Linked DNA regions of Homo sapiens: region 2 is linked to region 1. Evidence: fine-mapped expression QTL. A gene starts in region 1. The other region holds a variant in brackets. All regions are shown on one strand. Distances are between the middles of the regions.

Region 1 (4,388 bases):
CACACATCAACATGGAGATCACACACACACAACATGGAGATCACACACACACATCAACATGGAGATCACACACACATCAACATGGAGATCACACATACATCAACATGGAGATCACACACACACGACATGGAGATCACACACACACATCAACATGGAGATCACTCACACACATCAACATGGAGATCACACACACACATCAACATGGAGATCACATTCACACACATCAACATGGAGATCACACACACACAACATGGAGATTACACACACACATCAACATGGAGATTACACACACAACATGGAGATCACATTCACACATATCAACATGGAGATCACATTCACACACATAAACATGGAGATCACACACACACATCAACATGGAGATCACACACACATCAACATGGAGATCACACACACAACATGGAGATCACACACACACATCAACATGGAGATTACACACACATCAACATGGAGATCACATTCACACACATCAACATGGAGATCACAAACACACATCAACATGGAGATCACACACACACATCAACATGGAGATCACATTCACACACATCAACATGGAGATCACAAACACACATCAACATGGAGATCACACACACACATCAACATGGAGATTACACACACATCAACATGGAGATCACATTCACACACATCAACATGGAGATCACACACACATCAACATGGAGATCACACACACATCAACATGGAGATCACACACACACATCAACATGGAGATTACACACACATCAACATGGAGATCACATTCACACACATCAACATGGAGATCACACACACACATCAACATGGAGATCACACACACACATCAACATGGAGATTACACACACATCAACATGGAGATCACATTCGCACACATCAACATGGAGATCACACACACACAACATGGAGATCACACACACACATCAACATGGAGATTACACACACATCAACATGGAGATCACACACTCATCCACATGGAGATCACACACACACATCAACATGGAGATCACACACACATCAACATGGAGATCACATTCACACACATCAACATGGAGATCACAAACACACATCAACATGGAGATCACACACACACATCAACATGGAGATTACACACACATCAACATGGAGATCACATTCACACACATCAACATGGAGATCACACACACACATCAACATGGAGATCACACACACACGTCAACATGGAGATCACATTCACACACATCAACATGGAGATCACATTCACACACACAAACATGGAGATCACACACACATATATCAAATGGGGATTACACACACATCAACCCCAACATGGAGATCACACACACAACACAGAGATCACACAAGTCAACATGGAGATCATACACACACATCAACATGGAAATCACAAACACACAACATGGAAATCACACACACATATCAACATGGAGATCACACACACACATCAACATGGAGATCACACACACATCAACATGGCGATCACAATCACACACATCAACATGGAGATCACACACAACACAGAAATCACACACGTCAACATGGAGATTACACACACATCAACATGGAGTTCACACACACATCAACATGGAGATCACACACACTCAACATGGAGCTCACACATACACCTCAACATGGAGATCACACAACACAGAGATGACACACACAACACAGAGATCACACAAGTCAACATGGAGATCTCTCTCTCTCTACACACACACACACACACACACACACACACACACACACACACTGGCACAAGCCCAGCATTCATGGCGCAGCCATCTCTTGTACTTGCTAGCAAAACACCACCTGTGGAAAGTCAGCTCAAACTTCCAACCTCATCCCTCACAAAGGGGGAATGGAGGGTTTGGTTTTGGCTTTCACTGGAGTCTGCAACAAGAACTGGCATCATGCTGCCCATTTCCCGCCTCTCCCCACCCAGACCCCTGCCTCAGGGACGCCTGTCCTCAGCCCAGCCCTCAGCTGCAGCCAGGCCTTCAGCCTCCGTAACCCCCGCTCAGGGTCCCCACCCCCTGCAGCCCTGTCCCTCCAGGATGCATGGCCTTGTCCTGTGTGGGGGTGGCCGAGAGCACTGCCCCAGCCCTGGGTACCTTGGGCAGGAAGCTGGCAGAGGCCAGGGCTGCCATTCAAACAGGGGCAGGTGGTTTTGCCAGGAGGAAGTTGACAGTTCAACTTCAAACATGGGTGACGCAGGCCCCACACTGCCTGCTCCCCGTCCCACCCCTCCCTGAGCACGCCACCCCGCCCTCTCCCTCTCTGAGAGCGAGATACCCGGCCAGACACCCTCACCTGCGGTGCCCAGCTGCCCAGGCTGAGGCAAGAGAAGGCCAGAAACCATGCCCATGGGGTCTCTGCAACCGCTGGCCACCTTGTACCTGCTGGGGATGCTGGGTGAGTACCCCTCCCAGGTGTCCTGCGAACACCCGGGCTCGCTCCAGTGCAAGGAAGGAGTTCCCAGTTTTACCCAAGGCTGACTCTGGGATCCACATGTCAGCCCTCTGGAGCGTTGTGGAGATTTGGGGCCACTGGGATCCCTGCCTGCCCCCACTAAGCCGCAGCTTGGCCCTCTGTCCTGCATGTCCCACCCGCCAGGAGCACAACCTTGCCTCTCTCATGCGCTGTTGAGAACCCTGCTTTACCCTTCCAGTGCAAGAGAGACTGCAGGGGGGACCCGCATTTGATGGGGCCCAGACAACTTGATTCCTAGGCTGAGTTGGATTTTAGCAGAGCATTCAGGCCTCCCTCTGCGAGGTCCCCCACTGACAGCCCAGCCTTTACTTGGTCGCCTCCAGAGACATGGAAACTCGCCGTCTCCGAGGCAGCTCTGATGATGCTCTGGACAGACAGTGGGCCGAGGCAGGGTGGAGCCGCCTCTGAGGACGATGTCTGAGCAAATGTCAAGGACTCATAGCGGAAGTCCTAGGCCCTCTCATGCCCAGTCCTGGGTCAGTCCCAGAGGGGCCCAGCCAGGCCGGCTGGGATGAGTACACGCTGGGCCTGCTCTCACTCCAGCCCTGGGTTGTAAGCCCAACCCTGTGTGACCTCGGATAGGTCCCCAAGCCTCTCCAGGCCTTGATCTCCCCATTTATGAAATGTGGGGGTTGGGGGTGTGAACTGGATGAGGCCTGACCCACTTCCTGAGGATTTAGAAGGTCTGGCAGGGTGACAGAGGTGCGTGACTCTGGGCTGGAAACAGGAGGATGCGAGCAGCTTCCAGGCTGGCAGGGAGAGGGTCCGGAGGCCTTGCCTGCCTGAGCAGGGAGCCTCAGCAGCCTTCTAGGGAAACCGGGTGTGCAGGTGTGAGTGTGGGGGAATGCATGTGTGTGTGTCTGTGTGCATGTGTGTGAGAACTGTGTGTGGGGGAATGTGTGAGTCTATGTGTGTCTGTGTGAGTCTGTGTGTACGTGTGTGAGAACTGTGTTGGGGGGTAATGTGTGACTCTGTGTGTGAGTCTGTGTGTGAGTCTCTGGGCATGTGTGTGAGTACTGTGTGTAGGGGAATGTGTGAGTCTGTGTGTGAGTCTGTGTGTGAGTCTCTGGGCATGTGTGTGAGTACTGTCTGGGGGGGAATGTGTGAGTCTGTGTGTGAGTCTCTGGGCATGTGTGTGAGTACTGTGTGGGGGGGAATGTGTGAGTCTGTGTGTGAGTCTGTGTGTGAGTCTCTGGGCATGTGTGTGAGTACTGTGTGTGGGGGGGGAATGTGTGACTCTGTGTGTGAGTCTCTGGGCATGTGTGTGAGTATTTTGTGGGGGGGAAAGTGTGAGTCTGTGCGTGTGAGTCTGTGTGTGAGTCTGTGTTCATGTGTGTGAGAACTGTGTATGGGGGAATGTGTGAGTCTGTGTGTGAGTCTGTGTGTGAGTCTCTGGGCATGTGTGTGAGTACTGTGTGGGGGGAATGTGTGAGTCTGTGTGTGAGTCTGTGTGTGAGTCTGTGTGTGGGAGTCTGTGCGCATGTGTGTGAGAACTGTGTGTGTGTGCTTTCATGAGCACAATGCGGCCTCCAAAGGCAGGATTATCTCCCCAACACATGTGACAATGGCACCTGTGCACACATGTTCACATGGTTCTTCTCACATGTAACAACAACAGGTACAAAATGCCTTCTGTCCCAAAGTAAGAGGCCTGAGACAGACCTCTGGCTGGCTTCAGGGACCCTGCTAAGGAGGGACCAGGCCCTTAAACCCCCCACCTGCTCCTCACCTCTGGCCTCAGACTTCATTGAGATAGGGCGGCTCCCAGCTGAGTATGGGAACCCGTGTCCTGCTCTAGGGCCCTCCCAACTGAATCCCATCATGGGTGAGGCTCCTGATGGCACCAGGCAAGTCCCCTGGCCCAACACAGGCCACAGTCAGGAAGACTTGGA
Region 2 (4,388 bases), 23 kb after region 1:
TTGGGAACAGAGGGCCCAGCAGGACAGTGTTAGGTCCTAGTGCCTGCCCAGGTCTAGTTCTAAACGCCTGTGGTCTTTTCTCCTGGGGAGCCGGGCACCTCTACACCATCCTCGGCCTGCTCCTTCGGCACAGGATGGCTGCAATTCCCTTCCCGAGCAAGTTAGGAAACTGAGGCCTACGAGAGACTCCAGGGGGCAGAGCCCAGCAGCCCTGCCCTCAGCTGCACCTGCCGCCACCATCTCCCTCCCAGGCCCAGCCCCATCCCCACCCCTGCCTGCCCCCACCCATACCTGCCCCCACCACTCTGATGTGCCTTTCTTGTCTCTTGCCCAGTCCGCCAGAAGAAGCAGCGCCAGTGGATTGGCCCAACGGGAATGAACCAAAACAGTAAGTGTCCCCGGAGGCAGGAGCCTCCCTCAGGCCCTGGACAGAGGCCATGGAGGCAGAGTCGAGGCTCTCTGCTGACCACAGACGGAGCCTGTGGCTGCTTGAAGCCTCTGATCTCCACGGTGCTTGTCTGACATGTGACTGTGGCCAACAGACGTCCCCACACCAGGGAGGGCGGAGGCTTCTTGATGGGCTGATGGCTGAGCGGTTTCTACCGCTGAAGCCTCAGAGTGTAGAAACATCTCATGGTATCCTTTCTGTCCCTCGCCCCATCTCTAGGGTCCCCAGCAGCCCTCACCTCCTCCAGCAGTATTCCCCAACACAGTAGCCAGTGGATGTTAACAGGCAGCACTCACAAGAGGCCTCCCTGATCAACAGATCTGGAAAACCATGAGTTAGGCACAGCTAAGCATAGCTATTTCAGGACTTATCAGAACCTTAATGGGCATTTTTGTATTGCCCATCTCCAAAGCAAGGATCCATTAAGAAGGGCTGTCCAAGTTATTTTCATCATGGAACAACTTACAGGGCCAGTATTAGGACATTTTGGTGCAGCCAGCCCAACACCATCCCTGGTCTTCATCCTCCCTCCTTCCAGCCACAGTCAGAGACACCCTAATGGATGGAGACATGGCGCTCTTCCTGCCTCCCATTCTGCCTTCTTCCCCCTTCCCAAGTCCACAGCCAAATCCTTCAAGAGGGCTCTGTTGAATTTGTTATTAAGAAAGGCTCTGGAAACTTTCTTAATAACATACAGGCCCTCAGCTCCTGGAGGGCAGGGAGCAGATCTGTCCCGTCACCTGTGCTCCAGTCTCCTGCTTGGTAAATGCTTGATGACCGACTCACGGAAGGCCCCACCCTGCCAGTCAGATTGCTGGGTTACCCAAACCTGCTCTAAAAGTCTGCTGCTGATCCTGCTAGCATGAACCTCCCAGGAAGAAAGGAGAGGGGGATGCATTGAAGGGGCTGTGGGTGCCTTTGTCCTCTCCCCGCTAACATCATGGGAATAGGAGATTAAAGTTCTGGGCACCTGCTGGGGAAGGAGACGGAGGACACAGCCACAAGTCTGACACTGTCTCCTACCATCTGCCCAGTGTCTTTCCATCGCAACCACACGGCAACCGTCCGATCCCATGCTGAGAACCCCACAGCCTCCCACGTGGATAACGAATACAGCCAACCTCCCAGGAACTCCCACCTGTCAGCTTATCCAGGTAAGCACCAGCGGGTGCTCCCAGGCACGCAGGCAGGGCTGCAGCAGGCCGCCAAGGCAGGTCACGTGATGCCCTTGAAGGTCGGGTGATGGCCCAAAGACAGAATGGAGACCCCAGGGTGCAAGGGGATCAAACATCGCAGGATGCAGCAGGGGTACGGAAGGGATATAGCCTTTGCAGGCCCCAGCTGTCCCGTTTGAGACCACAAACTACTCATCTGGAGAGAAGAATGCACTCAGAAAGCCATCAACCCCAGCCTTGCTGTGACCTAATGGGCCTGTTTCCCTTCAGGGCCTTGAGGGGCCTGGATGGTAAATGAGGCCCCTTGGATTCCTCCGGGCTAGAAGAGAGCCATTAAGTGGGCTGCAGGAGCGCTGTACTAAAGGCTCCCAGACTGGCACTACCAATTAAGCCCCAGGGAGCCTGGAGTTCAGCATCATTAGTGAACGTTTGGCTGATTTGATCAAAACAGATAAGGGGTTGTCACCGGCTCATAAAGCCCCTGTGATCTTCCAACCCACTGTGGGCAGCGGCTCTAGGATCCAAGGGGCTCTGTGGAGTCAAAAACCCTCTGCAAACAGCGTCCTTTCTTTCCCCAGCTCTGGAAGGGGCTCTGCATCGCTCCTCCATGCAGCCTGACAACTCCTCCGACAGTGACTATGATCTGCATGGGGCTCAGAGGCTGTAAAGGTGAGCCCGTCTCCAGCCTGACCCCAGCACCCCAGGGTCCCCCACAGTCCTGGGGGTGAGCAGCAGCCACTCAATGCCTCCCCTCAGTCCCACCCTGCCCATACATGAATAGGGGACCCCCAGCATCTTGATTCTTGTAAAGGGAAAGACAAACGTCAGCTGTTTAGGTTATACGAGCTGATTTGACAATTAGAGCAGAGCAATCATGAACTTTAACAATCAACTCTTAAACTCCATTCGGAAGGCCACACAGGCAGAGTCCCTAAGAGCTCCGTGATGGAGTCACACCCCTCTAGAGCTGCCAACCTGCCAGCGGG[C/G]AGAAGGAGCCCCTGGCTCAGGACAGCAGCCGTCCCCAAGATGGAGCCCAGAGCATGGGTCCTGTCCCCGACCTCCCTGCATCACCTCTGCGGTGTCTTCCTCTAACACGTTTCCTTCTCACCCCACAGAACTGGGATCCATGAGCAAAAAGCCGAGAGCCAGACCTGTTTGTCCTGAGAAAACTGTCCGCTCTTCACTTGAAATCATGTCCCTATTTCTACCCCGGCCAGAACATGGACAGAGGCCAGAAGCCTTCCGGACAGGCGCTGCTGCCCCGAGTGGCAGGCCAGCTCACACTCTGCTGCACAACAGCTCGGCCGCCCCTCCACTTGTGGAAGCTGTGGTGGGCAGAGCCCCAAAACAAGCAGCCTTCCAACTAGAGACTCGGGGGTGTCTGAAGGGGGCCCCCTTTCCCTGCCCGCTGGGGAGCGGCGTCTCAGTGAAATCGGCTTTCTCCTCAGACTCTGTCCCTGGTAAGGAGTGACAAGGAAGCTCACAGCTGGGCGAGTGCATTTTGAATAGTTTTTTGTAAGTAGTGCTTTTCCTCCTTCCTGACAAATCGAGCGCTTTGGCCTCTTCTGTGCAGCATCCACCCCTGCGGATCCCTCTGGGGAGGACAGGAAGGGGACTCCCGGAGACCTCTGCAGCCGTGGTGGTCAGAGGCTGCTCACCTGAGCACAAAGACAGCTCTGCACATTCACCGCAGCTGCCAGCCAGGGGTCTGGGTGGGCACCACCCTGACCCACAGCGTCACCCCACTCCCTCTGTCTTATGACTCCCCTCCCCAACCCCCTCATCTAAAGACACCTTCCTTTCCACTGGCTGTCAAGCCCACAGGGCACCAGTGCCACCCAGGGCCCGGCACAAAGGGGCGCCTAGTAAACCTTAACCAACTTGGTTTTTTGCTTCACCCAGCAATTAAAAGTCCCAAGCTGAGGTAGTTTCAGTCCATCACAGTTCATCTTCTAACCCAAGAGTCAGAGATGGGGCTGGTCATGTTCCTTTGGTTTGAATAACTCCCTTGACGAAAACAGACTCCTCTAGTACTTGGAGATCTTGGACGTACACCTAATCCCATGGGGCCTCGGCTTCCTTAACTGCAAGTGAGAAGAGGAGGTCTACCCAGGAGCCTCGGGTCTGATCAAGGGAGAGGCCAGGCGCAGCTCACTGCGGCGGCTCCCTAAGAAGGTGAAGCAACATGGGAACACATCCTAAGACAGGTCCTTTCTCCACGCCATTTGATGCTGTATCTCCTGGGAGCACAGGCATCAATGGTCCAAGCCGCATAATAAGTCTGGAAGAGCAAAAGGGAGTTACTAGGATATGGGGTGGGCTGCTCCCAGAATCTGCTCAGCTTTCTGCCCCCACCAACACCCTCCAACCAGGCCTTGCCTTCTGAGAGCCCCCGTGGCCAAGCCCAGGTCACAGATCTTCCCCCGACCATGCTGGGAATCCAGAAACAGGGACCCCATTTGTCTTCCCATATCTGGTGGAGGTGAGGGGGCTCCTCAAAAGGGAACTGAGAGGCTGCTCTTAGGGAGGGCAAAGGTTCGGGGGCAGCCAGTGTCTCCCATCAGTGCCTTTTTTAATAAAAGCTCTTTCATCTATAGTTTGGCCACCATACAGTGGCCTCAAAGCAACCATGGCCTACTTAAAAACCAAACCAAAAATAAAGAGTTTAGTTGAGGAGAAATGAGCCTTTAGAAAACTGTTTTTCAAGGGTTGGCTGACTTGGGTGATGCATTTCAAAAAGATGTTTGGTGATGCGATGGAATAGA

Direction of the effects. Alleles are on the strand shown, and positions count from the first base shown. SD is a standard deviation of normalised expression in the study named.
In carriers of allele C in region 2, the expression in skeletal muscle of the gene that starts at base 2,292 in region 1 tends to be higher than with G alone (large effect, 0.80 SD a copy in GTEx).

Evidence for each region. PIP is the estimated chance that this variant, and not a neighbour inherited with it, causes the effect. A credible set is the group of variants that fine-mapping cannot tell apart.
Region 2: its variant is the best candidate, but not a certain one, in a credible set for the expression of CD5 in skeletal muscle (GTEx, PIP 0.84).

What each region holds. Positions count from the first base shown.
Region 1 is chr11:61,100,198-61,104,585 of GRCh38, forward strand. It overlaps CD5 (CD5 molecule), which reads left to right and starts at 2,292. Exons shown (of 11, transcript NM_014207.4): 1 at 2,292-2,418. The coding sequence starts at 2,364.
Region 2 is chr11:61,123,550-61,127,937 of GRCh38, forward strand. CD5 (CD5 molecule) reads left to right here. Exons shown (of 11, transcript NM_014207.4): 8 at 335-388; 9 at 1,483-1,602; 10 at 2,202-2,292; 11 at 2,739-4,303. The coding sequence ends at 2,290. Among named protein-coding and RNA genes, the nearest start is that of CD5, 23 kb to the left of the region's middle. The variant C/G (reference allele first, on the strand shown) is at 2,610.